Homo sapiens: one gene and its partners. The protein of the gene in region 1 interacts with the protein of each later gene in a pairwise test. Each region holds a gene or a part of one and is shown in the gene's direction. Other genes may lie near its edges.

What was found. Proteins that work in one complex are often made in the same cells at the same time.
Region 2: the proteins of LMO2 (region 1) and DYDC1 interact in binary tests that used the Homo sapiens proteins (3 or more experiments, as listed by UniProt).
Region 3: the proteins of LMO2 (region 1) and RCN1 interact in binary tests that used the Homo sapiens proteins (3 or more experiments, as listed by UniProt).

Annotation. Positions count from the first base shown.
Region 1 is NC_000011.10:33,861,074-33,868,106, reverse strand, and holds part of LMO2 (rhombotin-2), read left to right. Parts: intron 1-3,289; coding exon 3,290-3,505; intron 3,506-7,033. UniProt on the Homo sapiens protein: Acts with TAL1/SCL to regulate red blood cell development. Also acts with LDB1 to maintain erythroid precursors in an immature state.
Region 2 is NC_000010.11:80,339,738-80,346,770, reverse strand, and holds part of DYDC1 (DPY30 domain-containing protein 1), read left to right. Parts: intron 1-1,955; coding exon of another isoform or gene 1,956-1,988; exon of another isoform or gene 1,989-2,026; intron 2,027-4,409; coding exon 4,410-4,502; intron 4,503-7,033. Other genes in the region: DYDC2 (DPY30 domain-containing protein 2), read right to left, coding at 1,956-1,988. UniProt on the Homo sapiens protein: Functions as part of axonemal radial spoke complexes that play an important part in the motility of sperm and cilia. Plays a crucial role during acrosome biogenesis.
Region 3 is NC_000011.10:32,101,059-32,106,240, forward strand, and holds the end of RCN1 (reticulocalbin-1 precursor), read left to right. Parts: intron 1-2,222; coding exon 2,223-2,422; intron 2,423-3,306; coding exon 3,307-3,414; 3' UTR 3,415-4,664; downstream 4,665-5,182. UniProt on the Homo sapiens protein: May regulate calcium-dependent activities in the endoplasmic reticulum lumen or post-ER compartment.

The DNA of each region.
Region 1 (7,033 bases):
AGACACCAGTTCTGTAATGAGCTAGGTTTGTTATAACAAAAACCCCCACTTCCTTCAACAAATTCTCAGGAGAAAAATAACATTCCTTTTTAAAAGTATGTTTATGCAAACAATGGGTTTAAAGGGTGGTTTGATCACTTTTTTAAAATAAACTTAAAACTGAGCTCTGAGTTTCAGAGACTGGGCAAGATCATAGTAACACAATAAGGGAGTGAATTGGATGAATTGGTGCCTCATGCCTTTTTGATCAGCAGAATTTAGTCACTAATCCTTTCAATAGAAGATTAATCTGAAGGTTTCATTTCCCTGAAGGAAGTTTGCTTCTTTCAAAGTTTGTGCTTTTTCACTGAGGTTAGAAACTGAAACATCCTAACTTCCTAATACAACAGATATCTACTGCTGGAGGCTCACCAGCTCCTTCCTTCACTTCACTATTTGCCCAACGAAGACAGATTCTGATCAAAGAGGGACAAGCCAGTTGAGAAATTGCTGCAGCACATTCTCCCCATGCCCTTAGAAATTGTTATGATTGTCCCAGAAATCCAGGCTTAAATGATACTCAGGTGTAATATTCAAGATAAGGGTCTGGGAGAATATAAAATATTAATTTGAGGGTGAATCAATCTAATTCAGTCATTGTCTTGGATTGTCCACTAAGTATAATGTGATATTATCATTAATTAAGTATAGAAAGACAGAGCCAATATCTTATACTTTACTTCTCCATCTCATCTCAGGCCATCACCGTAACTCTTTTACTTTACATTCCTCCTGTTGTCCAGTATCCTACTAGATGCTTCATTGTGTACTTCCTCAAATCCAGCTTGGGTCATTACAATCAGCATCTCCAAATTACAGATGGAGACTTGCCTAGCTATATGCAAATGAAACATTTGGACAGAAAGCCAGCCAGAATTCATGAACACAGATTCCCTTGCTGTGCTACTGGTGGCCCCCACTGCCTCCCCTGTGAGTAACAAGAGCAGTTCATTTGAATTCCAGGCAGTTTTGCACCAGCTAAGGGCAAATTCTCTTCTTTCACAGTCCTTTGGCAGCATCAACATCGGGACATCCAATGTGCGTCCAGGTTCCATGAGTGGTTTTGAAAGCCCAGAGTAAGACCATGGGCTGTGGAAAGAGAAGAGATGCAACTCTGAGTTGATACACATGAAAAAGCTAGGGTATTAGTTATTAGAAGGGGAAATGGCAGTCCTTATATACAATCTGTAGAAACAAAGGAAAGAAAGCAAGGCTTCAGTGAATGAAACCTCGTCTCTACTTAAAATAAAAAAAATTAGCTGGGCCTGGTGGTGGACACCTGTAATCCCAGCTATTCGGGAGGCTGAAGCGGGAGAATCACTTGAACCCAGGAGGTGGAGGTTGCAGTGAGCCGAGATTGTGCCATTGCACTCCAGCCTGGGCAATAAGAGTGAAACTGTGTCTCAAAACAAACAAACAAAAAACTATAGTTTTGAATTTTTTTGAGCTAGGGTCTCACTGTGTTGTCTAGTCTAGAGTGCAGTGCTCACTGCAGCCTCAACTTCCTGGGCTCAGATGATCCTCCCACCTCAGCCTCCTGGGTAGCTGGGACTACTGGCTCATGCCACCAAGCCTGGGCAATTTTTTATATGTTTTGTAGAAACAGGATTTTGCCACGTTGCCCAGGCTGGCCTCAAACTCCTGGGCTCAAGTGATCCTCCTGCCTTGGCCTCCCAAAGTGCTGGGATTACAAGCGTGAGCCACTGTACCTGGCCATTTTTTTTCCCCAGATAAACTAACTTGAGCTTCCCATTTTCTTGTTCCAAAGATGATAGTCTCATGAAGTGCTGTTACACTGTGTCTAGAAAGTGTGGGCATGGCTTTAGCACTCCTAAATATTCATAAGGAACACTTCATACTTCACATGACGGGATCACCTGAAGTTGTCAGAGTGTTATAGACATTGAGCCACCTAGCCTCCTGTCCCCAAGTATAATGGCTGCTGGGCTTTATGGGCACAGACCAATTAGGACACAAGGTCGCCTGGTAAGTTAGTACCAGTTAGAAATAGGAGACATGGATTTATACCTGCAGGGTACCCAGGAGGAAACTCCCTTTGGGAATTTTACAGATGGAAGAAGGTCTGTTTTTTGAAACATAATAGATTTTTAAGAAATAGATTTGTGTTTAAGTAAGGTTCCAGAGAACACTTGCTAATTATTATAAATCAACACGTATTAAGTGTTTGCTGTGTCCCATGTGGGGGACACTAGAATAATTCCTTCCACTCCTTTATTTTCTTTTAGCAAAGTTATTTATTTTTAAATGTAAAAATGTATTCAGATTCCAGTGAAGCAAAGTGAACAGGAGATGCTATGCATGGCGTATTAACGAAAGAACACGTGTCACAGCCTATTAACAATTGCTGGATTGAGATGTCAGTGTCTGTTTAATTGCCTTCCACTCTCTTTGAAATAATCATTGCCCCCACTTCATTTTCTTCCTCAAATCAACTTTATCCAAATCAATTTTACTCTTATAAAAATGTTCAGGTAAGGAAAGAAAGGCCTATTTGATGTCCTTCGTGTAACAATGGCCTTACGATATGGGATTTTCCTCCAAGTATTCCTTCAGTAGGAAGAATGGAAAATGGAATTTCTGTAAAAAAGTAAAATTAGGAGAATTCCTATTATGTCCTGATGGAATTTTGATTTTGGAAAGAGAAAGCAACCTAAAATAATTTTTGGTCTCATTCTTCTTTCTTCCTCACCTCTGCTTTTGTGCAGTTGGTTAGGGCTGGAGGGAGGATGGCACTGGGGATTTGCAGATTCTTAGCACTCTGGGTCATCTGCTGCCCTGGCAGTGAGCGACTCTTTTAGTCCAGAGTGCGTCCTTTGAGGTTAGGCAGTGCCCTTGGGTGTCCAGGTTATGGGAGGAGGAAAATGAGGGAGATCTGTGAAGATAGAGTCAGCGGGGAGAGTGGGAAAAAGCAGAAGGAGACCAGAGGTGCCCAGGTAGTGCTGGGCATGGGCAGGGGCACAGTGCCACCTGCAATTGCCTTTGATGCCTCTTGGTGCCCTGTGTTTACTTCTTAGACATCTAGGGAGTAAGGTCTGGCTCTTTCCCGTCTTAACCCAAGGTTGGTTGGGACTCTGCAGTCTGGCCAAGGGATGTGTTGTCCTGTCCCTTCTCCCTTAGGTCACTGAAAGGCAGTCAGGTGAGATGCCCTGTCTGGCCCAAAACGATCTCGGACCCTCGGTGCTGGTCTCACTCTGGTGAGGCTGTCCCTGATGCTTGGCCTTCTCTCCAGGGAACCAGTGGATGAGGTGCTGCAGATCCCCCCATCCCTGCTGACATGCGGCGGCTGCCAGCAGAACATTGGGGACCGCTACTTCCTGAAGGCCATCGACCAGTACTGGCACGAGGACTGCCTGAGCTGCGACCTCTGTGGCTGCCGGCTGGGTGAGGTGGGGCGGCGCCTCTACTACAAACTGGGCCGGAAGCTCTGCCGGAGAGACTATCTCAGGTACCCTCCCCGGCACTCCACTGGGCCCTCGGAAGGGAGGCTGGGTGGTCCATGGACATCTGCAGTCGGTGTGTGTTGCCCCTTACCCTGCTCCAGGCTCGGACACCACCTATAGAAAGAGGTCAGACTGCAGAGGCTGAGTCTCAGCTCCTGTGCTGAGAAGCAGAGGGCATTTCTTCCTGTTTGAGAAGCATGTTCTCAGGGTTACGTTCCTATGTGGTAAAATACTAATATCTTTAAAGGCAAGAGAATTGTATACCCAAAATTCAGAAAAGTGCTTCCCTTGGGGAGCGGGAGAAGCTAGGGGATGGGATTGAGGAGGAGTACACACGGAGGATCAGAGGGACTGGGAGTGTTTCTAAGTTTGGAGGTGGGCTCTGAGGACCTCATTTGAATGCTTCAGAACATATATGTATGTTATAAATTTTTTTTGTATGACTCCAGTATTATATGATGAGAAATTTAAAAATAGAAAGCATATGGAGCTCCAAGCATTGACTCATAGCAGGAAGGCAGTCTTCGAAGAGCAGAAAGGCAAAGGCCCTGTAGGCAGTTGGAGGTTTGAGTCCCAATACCATTGCTTCCCAGCTTGGTGGCCTTGGGCAAGTTATTTAACCTTCCTAAGCCTCGATTTCCTTATCTGTAAAATGGGGATGATAATAGCACCTACCTCTAAGGATGTGGGGAGGATTTGATGGAATAATGCAGATAAACTACTTGGCTTGGTATGGATCAAATAGATGTTAGCTGCTCTTACATAATCATTATTTTCCAATCTAATGAGCAAAGGGATGGAAGAATGGAAGAGTAAAATAGGAACTCGACAACACCAAGTAAGACAGGAGCTGAGGACATCTCCCATGCTCTGGGCCATCCTATTGGCCATCCGAATTTTCCAGCACTGTGTGAAAGCCTTTGCCTAGAATGTACTAGTGTTTCTAGTTTCCGATGAGCTGCTGTGGAGGTAACTGTCTCTGTGCCCTCTACTGTCAGATCTGCTCAACTGTGTAGCTGTCAGTATTTCTCCGTTTTCCTGGAGCAGAGGGTCTGTGAAGCATGCTTCCCTGATACACCAGGACCATCCAACCCATGGAAGCTTGTTGAGACCTCAGCGCCCTTGGCTGCTGGGCCAGCTTTTCCTCCCAAACCTGCCCTCAGAGCATTTTACATTATAGAAACAAAACAAAACCAAAAAAACTGCAGGCAGTTTCACAGTGAAGGAAGCTTTACCTAAAGACTGTTAGAAGAAGCTTTTTGTCCTTGAATTCCCAGATAAAGTTCTTGCAGTCCTTGCAGATATGGTGGTTCCGAGAAAATAAGTAGGATTTTGCAATGATCATGCTTATAATTTTGGTCAGTTTTCTTTTTTTTAAGTCACAGAAAATAGAACTTGGATAAATACAGACCTGGTTTTGCTCACTCCCAGTTTGCCAAGTCAGTGAGAGGGCAGACGGGTAAATGATTCCCATCGGACCCTTGACTCCATCCCTGTCAAATCATTTGAATCTTATTAACTGAAGTGCAGATAGAGTAAGGTCAGAAGAGCCCCAGCTTCTCCCTATCTCTACCGTTTTATATAACATTCAGGAATAAAACCAGTGCTGCCTGGGCTTGTTAATCCTTTCCATTTTCAAAAAGGAGAGGAAAAAAAAAACAGTCTGGGAGAACCCAATGTTAATTAACTTGTGTCTTGGTGACATGAAATAATTCTTCTCCCTGCCACATTCCTAGGCAACATGTTAATTAACTCTGCATTAGTGCAGGCATTTCCAGCCATTCTTTAATATTTATATTATTGTTATTAAAATGGGCAGCAGAGAGCTTAAGATGGGACATCTCTTGACAGAGGAGAAAAATTGTCTTTTGCGTCAGGGATGGTCCTTTAGCCAAGGTCTTGTTTACTGGCATTCTTAGTATATCTGGCAGGATCTTTTAACAAGGCAAGTTGGAGGAGTAACTGAACGGGCCCTCTAATGTGTTTGAGTTCTTCACCCCTAGGATAACTTGTCCCCGTGAGGATTTCCAATGGCTGAGTTGCCTGTTACAGTTCTTTTCCGACATTTAGCTTCAAACATTCATGAGACCCCCATGCAGAACCTCAACTCTGCTGCTGTGTTGTATTGTTGGGAACCCAAGAGCAGCTGTTCATGTCTGTGCTGAGCCAGATCTCCTTGGATCCCTTTTCACTAATTCTTGTGTGCTGGGAGTGGTGGGGTGGCGGTGATGGCAGTGGTTTTGCTTTTAACAGCCAGCACCTGAATCTGTTAGAGCCAGAAGTATGCCTGCCCCAACTAGACCCCCAACGGACCTTAACCAGTGACAGACATGGTGGGAGTACCAAGCCCCGCAGCCTTGCCTGGAGCCAGGCATAACTTATATTCCAGGGTCCCTCCCCTCTGAGGGACTTTGCCTGAGGATACAACTTGGCTTGGCTTCCTCCCCTTCCCTCCAGCCTCCCCTGCTGCCTTCCAGGTTTTTCCTGAGAATGCCTCATTCATAAATCACTGGCACATCAATCCTTGCCTCAGGGGCTGCTTCTGGGATATCCAGCCTAAGATACCAATTCTTGGTGCCAGAGGTTAATGCTCAAGTTAGGTGTCAAGTCCCGGCTTATTTTTTACTAATATTAGAATCTCCGAATCCCAGAGCTGGAAGGGGCTACAGAGACCTTCTTTTTCAGTTCCCTTGCTTTATGGCTTAAGTCACAGAAGCCTGTACAGGGGACTCCATTTGCTCAGGTCACCTGGCAAGTTAGAGGTCATGCTGGGACCTGAACTTGTCTCCCACATATTCGTCCTTTGTCCTTCCCTTCATAGCTGCCTGATGTGGGTTGTAATTTACCCCCTGACTTCCCTTTAATAAGCTCCCTCCTTCCTTAAGGATCGCACACCCCAGGCAGTTGGATTCATTCCATGCACACTGTTTTCTCAGTCGTTCATCCTTGCTCAGGCCCAAACTTAACTTACAGAGCAGTCAGGAAACCAGAACTGTCTTTCCACTCTGTGACCTCCAATGTGGCGGTTACCTGCAGCTCCACCATCTGCTACGTTGGGATAAAATGTTCTCCCCCCAGTAATGAGTTTGCTCCCAGGCGGTGCTTTGAAAACACTCAGAGATCTTCAAATGGAAAGCAGGATTCAGAGGCAAATTAGCTGGCCCTGGCCCGAACAATGAGCTCTCCACTCACAGACCACCTCTTGTCAATTCCATTAATCTCGCCCAAATATTGCAAAATGTGTCAACTGCCCTTAGGTCCCCTACAACCTCTCAGAATGTACCCACTGATTCTCTGATATCCTGAAATCAACCAGAACTTCCAATAAGAGCAAGCATTCACCTAAAACTGTCCTAAAGGTTTTATGTAGAAACCACCTGCTAACATGCTATGTTTTCAGCCACGAGTGAAAATTACTTCCTGCAGCAAGACTGGCACAGCTGGGAATACACCCAAGATGTGTTAAAACATAACCAGCGTTGGCTTAGCCCTTGACCATGGGTGCCCTGACATGCTTCGTTTGGTTGTTTTAA
Region 2 (7,033 bases), on another chromosome or scaffold:
GGAAGAGACATGGCCGGGGGCAGTGGCTCACACCTGTAATCCCAGCACTTCGGGAGGCTGAGGCGGGCAGATCACAAAGTCAGGAGATTGAGACCATCCTAGCTAACATGGTGAAACCCCGTCTCTACTAAAAATACAAAAAATTAGCCGGGCGTGGTGGCGGGCGCCTGTAGTCCCAGCTACTCAGGAGGCTGAGACAGGAGAATGGTGTGAACCCAGGAGGTAGAGCTTGCAGTGAGCTGAGATCGCGCCACTGCACTCCAGCCTGGGTGACAGAGTGAGACTCCGTCTCAAAAAAGAAAAAAAAAAAAAAAAAAAAAAAAAAAGAAAGGGAAGAGACACACATTGGTGAGGGTGTGGAGAAAAGTGAACTCTTCTACACTGTTGATGGGAATACAAATTGGCGCAGCCATTATGCAAAATGGTATGGGTGTATTTCAAAAAATTAAAAGCTACCATATGACCCAGTAATTCCTCTTCTCAGTATATATTCAAAGGAAATGAAACCAGCACCTTATAGAGACTACTTGCACTCCCATGTCCATTGCAGCATTATTTACAATAGCCAAGATTTGGAAACAACATAAATGTCTGTCAGTGGATGACTGGATAAAGAAATTGTGAGCTGATCACAGTGGCTCACACCTGTAATCCCAGTACTTTGGGAGGCCGAGGCCTGAGGATCACTTGAGGTCCAGAGTTCGAGACCAGCTTGGGCAACATAGGGAGACCTCATCTCTAGAAAAAATGTATAAATTATCCAGGCATGATGATGATGGCATGCACCTGTGGTCCCAGCTACTCAGGAAGCTGAGGTGGGAGGATTAATTGAGCCCTGGAGGTTGAGGCAGTGCCACTGCACTCCCACCTGGGTGACAGAGCAAGACCCTGTCTTGAAAAAACGTAAGATGTATTTCTCATGTATATCTTGTATATATATATCTCACATATATGTATCACATATATGTATATATAAAAGAATATTATTCAGCTTTAAGAAAGAAGTAGGTCCTGCCATTTGTGATGACATGGATGAAACTGAAGGACATGATGTTAAGTGAAATAAACCAGACATCAAAAGAAAAATACCACATGCTGTCTATGTAGAAATCTTAAAAAAAAAATGTTGAATACATAAAAAGAGAGAATAGAACAGTGGTTACCAAGAGGTGGAGTGGGGGTAGGCCTGGAAGAAGAATGAGGAGATGTAGGTCAAAATGTACAAAATTGCAATTGTGTAGTATGAATAAATGTAGAGATCTAAAGTACAGCATGAGGATGATAGCCAATAAGATTGTATTGTGTACTGGAAAATTTTTAAGAGAGTAGATTTTAGGTGCTCTTACCATACAAAAGTAACTGTCTAAGATGATGGATATTGAAATTGCTTACCTGTGGTAAGCATTCACTATATATATCAAAACATTATATGCATCTTCAATTTACACAATAAAAAGTTAAATCTTGACCCTGAGCTCAAAAATTCATAATATAACTGTTAAGCCATGGAACTGCTGTGTGGTAGGACATCAGGATATATTCAGCTTCTGTTTCTGACAAAAATTCACAGAATTGATGGTCCAGTTTACAAGAGTGAATGAAGGTCACTGTTGACACTGCTGGATCAATAACACATAATAGATTCAAATACTTTCACAGAGTAGCTGCTGTTGAGTAATATGATGAACACTTCCCGGCTTTAAACACTATTTTCTCATGAGCTTTGTAAATTTGTTCAGCTCAGCCTTTTTCTATTCCACATGTATTTTTATCACTGTCAGCTATGACACATCTTAGCAGATTTCACTGCAGGTTGTATTGAATCAGTGTTTCTACACGACTTTGAAAATGCTCTTGTCTGTAATTGTTCCATGAAGACTGTATTAGTCCATTTTCAAGCAGCTGATAAAGACATACCCAACACTGGGAAGAAAAAGAGGTTTAATTGGACTTACAGTTCCACATTGCTGGGGAGGTCTCAGAATCATGGTGGGAGGCGAAAGGCACTTCTTACATGGTGGCAGCAAGAGAAAATGAGGAAGAAGCAAAAGTGGAAACCCCTGATAAACCCATCAGATCTCGTGAGACTTATTCACTATCGTGAGAATAGCACAGGGAAGACCAGCTCCCATGATTCAGTTAACTCCTTCTGGGTCCCTCCCACAACACTTGGGAATTCTGGGAGATACAATTCAAGTTGAGAATTGAATGGGGACATAGCCAAACCATATCAAAGACTATTCATAGAGGTTTGGTTTTTCAGTCACTTCAAACTCAGCATTGACCCTTTCCATAAACAACAACTGAGCAGTGTTGGGAACATCTGTCTGCTTATCAGGAGCCAAGGAAAGCCACTCAGAATCATGTGCCTTGTTATTAGTTGACTACTGATGTTGCTCCCAGTGTCAACTCTGAGCAGCTGCTCTCACCAAAAGGCTAAAATCTTAGACAAGTTTGTTTTTTCCTGGACACATTTTTTTTGGCCACTGAAATAAAACATGTTTTAATTCACTCATCATTGGTAAATATCTTTCCTTGCTTTCATAACAAATGAGCCTCTTGGAACCCTACTTTTGTTGCAGACTTATTTTCATTTTTAATTTTTGTAAATAAATTCTGCTGTGATAATTCTGTTTTTGTTATTTTTATTTTTTTAAGACAGAGTCTCGCTCTGTCACCCAGGCTGGAGTGCAGTGGTGCGATCTCAGCTCACTGCAACCTCTACCTCCCAGATTCAAGCAATTCTCTTGCCTCAGCCTCCCAAGTGGCTGAGACTACAGGCACCTGCTACCACGCGTAATTTTTTTTGGTATTTTTAGTAGAGACAGGGTTTCACCATGTTGGCCAGGCTGGTCTTGAACTCCTGTCCTCAGGCCTTCCAAGTGCTGGTATTACAGGTGTGAGCCACCATGCCCAGCCAATTCTGTTTTACATTTTCTAATTTTTTTTGGCCTTTGTGCTCTGTGAGCTGGGACTATTGTGATGAGTGCTTAGTCTGGTAATGTTGATATTTATTATATTCTTTTGGTACAGTGGCACTGTATAGCAAGAAACATGTTTTGCCATTTAATTTGATGACAAAATAATACACACTCTAGTGTGCCTTAAAAGTGCGACATTCAAAATTCACTATTTTTCTTTTTTTTTTCTCAAAATTTTGTTTAGAGATGGGGGTCTCGCTATGCTGCCCAGGCTGGTCTTGAACTCCTGGCTTCAAGTAATCCTCCTGCCTCGCTCCTGAGTAGCTGGGATTACAGGAATAAGCCACCCATCCCTGGCTTTCTTGTTTTGACATAATGGATATAATTTTTTTAAATGTCACAGTATAGTGATACCATGGCACTCCAAACACTGCTGTTACAATGATGTTACTGCGGTTTGTAGTGTGCTGGGCAGCCAGGCAAAGTGGTGAGTGCACCACATGTGGTCTCTGTTATAACTACTACACTCTGCTATGGCAGCACAAAAGCGCTCGTAGACAATACGTAAACAAATTAGCATGGCTGTGTTTCAATAAAGCTTTAAGGATGCTGAAATTTACATTTCATACCGTTTTCCTATGTCATGAAATATTATTTCTTTTAAATTTTTTCTATTTAAAAATGTAAAAGCCATTCTTTCTTTGTAAGCTATAAAAAACAGGAGGTGGGTTGGCTTTGGCCCACAGGCTTTATTGCTGAACCCTATTCTAGTGTGACAGATATGCTGAGTTGGGAGCAAATATATTGTTGGTTAGTAATGATTTCAGATGATATTCTTTTTTCTTCTTTTCTTTTTTTTTTTTTTTTTTGAGAGGGAGTCTTACTCTGTTGCCTAGGCTGGAATGCAATGGCACAATCTCGGCTCACTGCAACCTCCACCTCCCAGGTTCAAGCGATTCTCCTGCCTCAGCCTCCCGAGTAGCTGAGATTACAGGCATGTGCCACCCTGCCCAGCTAATTTTTGTATTTTTAGTAGAGACAGGGTTTCACCATGTTGGCCAGTCTGGTCTCAAACTCCTGACCTCAGATGATCTGCCTACCTTGGCTTCTCAAAGTGCTGGGATTACAGGCATGAGCCATCAGATGATATTCTGAAGAGTTTCTCACCCACTCTTCCACAACCAGTGTGTGGCTATTTGAAGACCCATCTATGCTTAAAGAAATTTATCTGGAAAATTGTTGCAATCTCATTTGTTACTTTAAGAAGAAAAGGGAAAATAATTTTGTACAAATTGTGCTTTCTATAATTTGCAATTAAGGAAGATTAAAATCTTTTTTAAAAATTTTATGCTTCAGGAAGCATTTGTAGAAACTAAAGTATTAGTTGGATGTGACCATGTATTGTAAGTTTCTGAAATGAAGGTGGGTATAAACTTAATTATCTTGCAATTAATCTAACTGTAATATGACATATTTCTGAATATTCAGCAACAGCTGGCATTGCAGCTAGAGTTGGAAATGCAAGAAAAGGAGAGGCAGAGAATACAAGAACTACAGAGAGCTCAAGAACAATTAGGCAAGGTAATTTGAAGTTTTATAAATGTCAGTTTTATTTAAAACTCTCTAGAATCTTCAAACTGTTTATTTCAGCTGTTAGCAGAAGGACCATGGGATTTGTAGTCTGAAGACATGCCACATACTAGCTGTGTAAGCTAAACAAGTCTCATAACCTTTTTCAGTCTCAGTTTACCTGTTTCAAAACTAGAGCTAGCAGTATAATACTATTAGCAATGTCTCACTGGTTCCTTTTTTTTTTTTTTTTTTTGAGACGGAGTCTCATTCTTGTTGCCCAGGCTGAAGTGCAATGGCACAATCTCGGTTCACTGCAACCTCGGCCTCCCAGGTTCAAGTGATTCTCCTGCCTCAGCCTCCCGAGTAGCTGGAATTACAGGCACGCACCACCACGCCCGGCTGATTTTGTATTTTTGGTAGAGACAGGGTTTCTCCATGTTGGTCAGGTTGGTCTCGAACTCCTGACCTCAGGTGATCCACCCACCTTGGCCTCCCAAAGTGCTGGGATTACAGGCATGAGCCAGCGCCCCTGGCCGTCTCACTGGATTCTTATACAATCAAATACAATCATGTTTGTGAAACTTCTCTGTGAGCAGTAGGGTTCTCTAATAGTGATACCCTCAACATTTTAGTCAGGAGTTAGCTGTTCCTAGTTACAGTAGCTGATGTTGAATATTGAGGGTATTCCAATCTCGGAGGCAGTAGTATATGTCTTTATGTTAATGTATTAACAACAAGAATTTACATTTTAAAATATGTTCATACATGGACTTTCATTAAAATAAACTATGCAGTAACTTTTTTCTTTCTTTCTTTTTTTTTTTTTTTTTTTTTTGAGACAGAGTCTCACTCTGTCACCCAGGCTGGAGTGCAGTGGCGTGATCTCGGCTCACTGCAACCTCCACCTCCCGGGTTCAAGCAATTCTCGAGCCTCAGCCTCCCGAGTAGCTGGGATTACAGGCACGCACAACCATGCTTGGCTAATTTTTTGTATTTTTAGTAGAGATGGGGTTTTGCCATGTTGTCCAAGCTGACATGATACAATCATGTCAGGTCTCTAGTTTGACCCATATTTCCTGCATCCAAAAGCTATGAGTCATATAGACCAATATTCTAGATGACTGAGTTTATAGCTACTATCTCTTAATCAAATGTTTCTCCCCCTTTTTATTCCATAATTAAAGCTGAAAAAAGAAGCAGGTTTTATAGACAATGTTCATTATGTTTATTGATGCTTAGATGAGAGAATCATTTATTAAAGCAATATTTAAAAAGTGTGAATGGTGAATTAAATCAAAAAGTGAGATTTTTTTTAAAAGGATAAAAGCCCTATACATAGTTTTAAAAAATACAGATGCTGATGCGGTCTTAGTCTGAGTGTAGTGTGAGCACAGGGATATGCCTGTATGCACACATACACAAGCAGCCCCTTTCTCTTTAAGATTCACAAAGAAATAATGTTTAAGGTGATGGATATCTCAAATATCCTGATTTGATCATTACATATTGTATGCTTGTATCAAAATATCACATGTACATCGTAAATATGTACAGCTATTTATATCAGTAAAAATTAAAAATTAAAGAAATTTTGAAAAAGATTCACGGATCTAAACTGAAAGAGAAAATACAGGAACATATCAAGAAGGCAGTGATCAAAATAAAGGAATTTAAAGTATTTTTAATCAAAGTGACCTGATAGCTACATTAAAGTGCTTCAAAGTCCATAGGAAGGATTGGTCTCTATTTTATGGCTCCAGAGAGCCACACTCATGTTATTTTACTATCTCCAGACATCATCAGCTTGTGTGACCACTGCCAGAATAACTTTAGTAATTCCTATTTCTATAGGCTTATCATCCCTCACCATAGCATAGGTAGTCCCCTGCAAAGTACCACTCCCTCGCCCATTGCTCAGAGATGAGTCCACTCATGTGCTTTCCCTTGGCCTTCTTATGGCTGCAGACTCGCAATGTAAACTATCATGTGCAAAGGGAAGTTTGCTAGAAGGATTCTGGGTTGAAGGAAGGGTTTAACACATAAACTGTGAAGGACTCTGGTATCACTGGGCCTTTCAGACTTTGGGAGCAAGAGAATCAGATGCTACCAGGGCTCTCCCCTCTGCTGCTCCCTGGTTATTAGTTTCGCTCTTTCACTATGGGCTGCTTTGCTGCACATGGGTAGGGAACATGGGCCTTAACGGCTTCTGAGGCTTAGAATGTTGTGGCTTCTACCATCTAAGAGGAATGGATGCCTTGTTTTAGTTTCAGTTAAGAAAAGAATCTTGGAGAAGGATTCTGACTGGCTTAGTTTGTGTCAAATATCCATCTCTGTGGCAGGGGAGCATAGTCCTATAAGAATATGGATGTTCCCCATATAGCCTTGTGGATGCTGGATAAGAAGTTACCAGGAAAATGGAGTGGTCTTGGGAAAACAGTGCTGTTTATGTCCCTATCATTAGGGTGACCATATGTATGATCAAGAAATCACTGGTCTTCTAGCAGCCAAAACGAATCAGCTCAGGGTCAGTTAGGCCACCC
Region 3 (5,182 bases), 1.8 Mb from region 1:
TTGCAGAAAGGCATTCTTCTTAGAAAGATAAATGCTTTACAGAGTGCACAATTGCCCAATAATATGCTCATTTTGTGCCCCTCGTTTCCCATCCTTTGGATGGGAGTCCTATAGTGTCAAATTAATGTATTTGGGTCTGAACCCACCATTGCTGGTTAGAGCCCTTCCTGGTAGCCCCAAATCCCCCCCAGCCCAACCCCCCGCTAGAAAGGACTAGAGCAGGCAACAAGGACAATTCCATTTGATCCTCACCACCTGCTATGGCACATGGCTCCAGCTGCAGGCTCCCTTCTCATGGCAGCTCTTTTCCCAAGTCTCAATAAAGTAAAAGCTGGAAAATCATTTGGTTTAGGTGTTGACCTATGAAAAGAGAAATGAAATATGTATAATTTTTGTACAGATTTTTAATCAAAGCCATTAATTACCTTTAAATGTAAAACTCAGAGCCTGAGTTGCTGTCTCTGGTTTTGTGGTTGTATTACTTTGCCATCCCAGACACGAGAACAAGTGCCTTCAGCAATGAAGAGCAGACTTTCCTCTAATCATTAGAAATTATGTTTGATCATGAGCCAAACACTGTTCCTTGTGTGTCATTGGTAACAGACAAGGTAGCTCTCGCCACAGTAATTAAAGTGATCTTGGTGGCACTACCCTGATAGAATAACATATGCTGACAGCTCCCTCATCAGAGCAAGCAGTTGAGCCTTCCTCTTGCTGGGTCCACGTGCGAGGGTCACGTTCGGAGGCGCAGACCTCTTACTGTGGCACTGGGGATGAAATGAGACTGACAGCAAAGACTGCATGATCAAAACAAACAATGTAGTGCTTTTGATTGAAAGTGTGCGCTCTGCCCAGCCCTCCGGAACTGTGCATTGAAATGGTGCAAAGTCAGAGGCAGAACTCTTTGAGTGGCTTTGCCTAAAAGAAGCATCCCATTCTTTACAGTGAATAGGGAGAGGGAGGTGGAGGCGTTGCGCTTGAAAATCGAATACCTAGTGACTCACAGGCAGAGGAAACCCAATGTATTGACTCGTCATTTCACTTCTCGGGGAGGCTTCTCTTCAAGCGGCACCAAGTGGAAAGTGTGTGGTGGGGGGTGGTAGTAGGAAGAGCACTGGAATTAGGAACCCTACCTTCACCAATTAGCTGTGTGACCCTGGGGTAATCATGTAATGGCTTCAAACCTCAGCTTCCTCATCTGTAAAATGGGGGAAAAAAAGTGAGCCCATTTTTACAGGATTCGATGAAGCTCGAATTAGCTAATACATATTACAACTCTTTCTCAAAAACAATGTAGACATGTCAGTTAGGGGTCTACCTTGTAGTCAAGGGTCTTGTCTTTTTTTTTCCTTCACTTACTACCTGCTTCATTCACCACCTGACATTTCCAAGCTCTGCTTCCGTGACAGAGAAACTGCCTGCAGGGTATCTCTCTTTTCCAAGAGCTACTGACACACACACAATGCAAAAACGTTTCCTTTTTCTTTTCCTTGCCATTTTGTACAATGGGGATAATGACCCATCTTGTAGAATTGTTATAAGGATGAAATATAATGACAAGTGAAAGCCCTTTGGAAATGATATAAACAATAGTACTAAACACAGTGGCTAAGACTCTGGGTTGAAAGCAGAGTGACCATGTTCCTGTGCAGCCTCCAGCTCATATGAGCTGTGGGTCATTGGGTAAGACTTTACCTCATTGTTTTCATCTGTAAAATGGGAATTATAACAGCACTCACTTTGTAAGGCTGTTATGTGAAAATCAAATGAAAACTGTGTGTAGAACACTTTATACAGTATCTGGACCATAGTGTTCAATGTTAGTCATTATTATTAGTTTTCGCTTATGTAGTGCCAGTTTGGGTTGTAGAGGGCTTTTACATCAAAATGGCACATTTGATCATAATAGCCCCATGATTTATAAATTATCATCTCCATTTTACAGACAAGGAAACTTCAGGCTCAGTCACTGAACTAAGTCAAAAGCCGGGATTTATCTTTTGGCTTCTAAACTCAGTTCTTTCTACTCCACCACATGGCCTTCATCATGAATAAATTACTGCATCATTATCCCCAAGAAGCTGCCTACCAGCTGTTTGAGTTAGGTCTCTGGATTGGTTGTCGCCTTTCCTAAAGCTCAGGAGGTCAAGTTTGTTTTATGGGGGTGGGGGAGGTTTACCTTCCCACTTTCCTTTGTAACCAACAATAACCTTCCCTTCTAGCGGATATGTTTTCCCATGAGGAGAATGGCCCTGAGCCAGACTGGGTTTTATCAGAACGGGAGCAGTTTAACGAATTCCGGGATCTGAACAAGGACGGGAAGTTAGACAAAGATGAGATTCGCCACTGGATCCTCCCTCAAGATTATGATCATGCACAGGCTGAGGCCAGGCATCTGGTATATGAATCAGACAAAAACAAGGTATTTCCCATTCTTCTGGAATCACTGATTGAAGGGAGACAGTTTACATAAGATCGGTTTTGTTTGCTTTTTCGGCGATAGCATTGACCCATGTGGCCATGTCTTTATTGACTTTTCCTTCTTGTCCTACAGTGGAGACCTGTAAACTTGAGCTAATACCGTGATAACCCACAGTAAAATTATTAGGCCCCAACTTTCCTGGAAAGTCAGCTGTGAGCCACAGACTTACATTAAGTCACATTTCCTAAGATTGCAGAACTTTGTGGGCAGGACACGATTTAAGAAGTATACCCCGTGTTGCCCTAGGATCAGCTTATTTATCCATTCATTGTCACCAAATACTTATCAAACATCTGTGAGGTGTCAGGAACAAGGAAGCCCATCCCATTAAAGCCCAGACATCCTCAGGCAAGCTCAGGTTTCTGGCTTTAATGCCTAGTACTTCGGTATCTATTGATAAACATCCAAATAAACAAATCAATACATTTAGAAAAATGTCCTGCCTATTCCCCACTTTGCTGATTGCCCCCAAATTCTCAGGTTATGCCAACAGTCAGTTTAGGCAGCGAGGCTGTAAGAGGAAAGTGGCATTCTTGAGGGCCTATTTTGGGAAGACCAACACTGCTTGTGGGCACAAATGGATTCTAGCTTCTGAATTACTCGGGGACTTCCCTGACACGTTAGCACGGTTTTTATAGCAAGAGGCTGTTCCGATTTGGAGTTTTGCAATGCAGTCATGGTAGATGAAGGAGGTGCCCAGTAGCTTCTGGATTACTAAATATAGTATTTTAAATGTTGTACATCAGTGAAATGACATGAACATCATACAGAACTAGTACAGTTACCAGAGCTTCCATGACAGTGCTCTTTGATCTCTTCTATAGGATGAGAAGCTAACTAAAGAGGAAATATTGGAGAACTGGAACATGTTTGTCGGAAGCCAAGCTACCAATTACGGGGAAGATCTCACAAAAAATCATGATGAGCTTTGATAGACACTCACCAGAATATGGCAGACTGTCATAGGCATTCTGTTATTGTCTTGGATTGTTGCTACAATTGTCTAATTTACAGCAGTTGTGATCCCACAAAAAGCAAGTTTATACCTCAGATTGGGGTATAAAAATTGTTTTTCGCTCAGTATTTACTGGAAAATGGACATCACTAGTCTTTCAGTAAGATTTCTCTCAAAACACGTGAAAACCTTGGTAAATTGCAATTCTTTCTGGGGATATATTGGTACAACATGACTTAAAACTTTTTTTTTTCTATTAAAACTTAAAGGGGAACAAAACTTGAAAAAGCCCTGTTCTTCAGAAGGTGAGTGGGTTGAGGGAGGCAGTAATATGAAGTGACTGCTGTGTATTTTAACTACCAGATTTTTTATATTTGCCACTGTTAAATAGTTGGAAAGGGGAAATTCTGATTAAGCGAAAGTGGTATCATCCTAGGTAAGCTTATTTCAGAACAAGTCTAATATTTCAGATTCTTTCTTTTCGACTTTATACTCTGAGTTATTACTTACTGTAAGTGGTGTATATGAAACCTCCATGCATTTTCCAGTATGGATCTGCTAATATGCACAGTAAATCCATGTCTTTGTTTGTTTTTCTATTAAAAAGCAATCAAGAAAGATAATGTGAAAAAGAAAGGAATTTAGAGGTAGGGAAAAGATGAATGTCAGACATTTGAAGAACTATAGTAAAATGATAAACACTAAATATACTTGAGAAAACTTTCTTAATATGCCAATGAGGTAGGCCTGATCTTTGAAATAGTGAATAGGAATACAATGCATTTCCTCAGTGATCACTGATTAGAATGAGTTGGTGGGATCCTTGGGAAGCCAAACGGAGCGGAGTTCTGGATCATGTCCCATCCAGTCCAGTGAATCCACGACCCGCAGACCTGTCCCCCCGCAACAGCTTATACCATGGAATGAGGACAAGGTGATACTCTGAGCTGTGGACTGAACTGGCAGACACAACCTGTACAGATTGAAATTTCACCTTGTAAGGAGGAAGTGAATGAAATAAAGGATCCCCCTAAGGATTTTCTACTGTGTCCTGTGGTGTTTGACTTCACAGATGCTATTTGTGACATTATTCATATAGCATAAAACAGTGGGGTTGGATCCCATGAATAACATTATAAAGGTTCTGGGGTTTTTTTTCATCCAATTACTAGAATGTTCAGAATAGACTCATATTTACTAATTTAATAAATGTATGTACTTAATGCCTTTACTTTTCTAGGTCATTTTAACTATAAAATCTTCCTGAAAAAGGTTGCACCTGGAAAATCTGGACTTCTTCCCTGGGCCTATGAGGCGCTGTAGGAGGAGGCCTATGGGATCTGGCCCCTACCAGCAGTAGCATCATCTCCTTACCACTGTCCCTTTCATACCGCCTATAGTCTGGCCCCAGAGACTTTCTAGTCCTCAGACACACCAAGGTCATTCCCAGGTTGGGCCCTTTGCACTTGCTGCCCCCTCACATTCAGAATACCCATCTCTCACGCCCTCGGGTAACACATGGTACTTCCTCAGGGGGGCTTTCCAGACCCCACTATTTAAAGTAATCCCAACTCGAATCTCGGTTTCACATCCCCATTTTATTTTCTTCTTGGCATGCATTACTATTTGTATTCATTTCCATGCCTTCTGTCCAAATTGCCACAAAGTGGGGGATTTACAGTGACAGAAACTTACACGGTTCTGGAGGCCAGGGTCTGAAGTCAAGGTGTCAGCAGGGCTGCTCT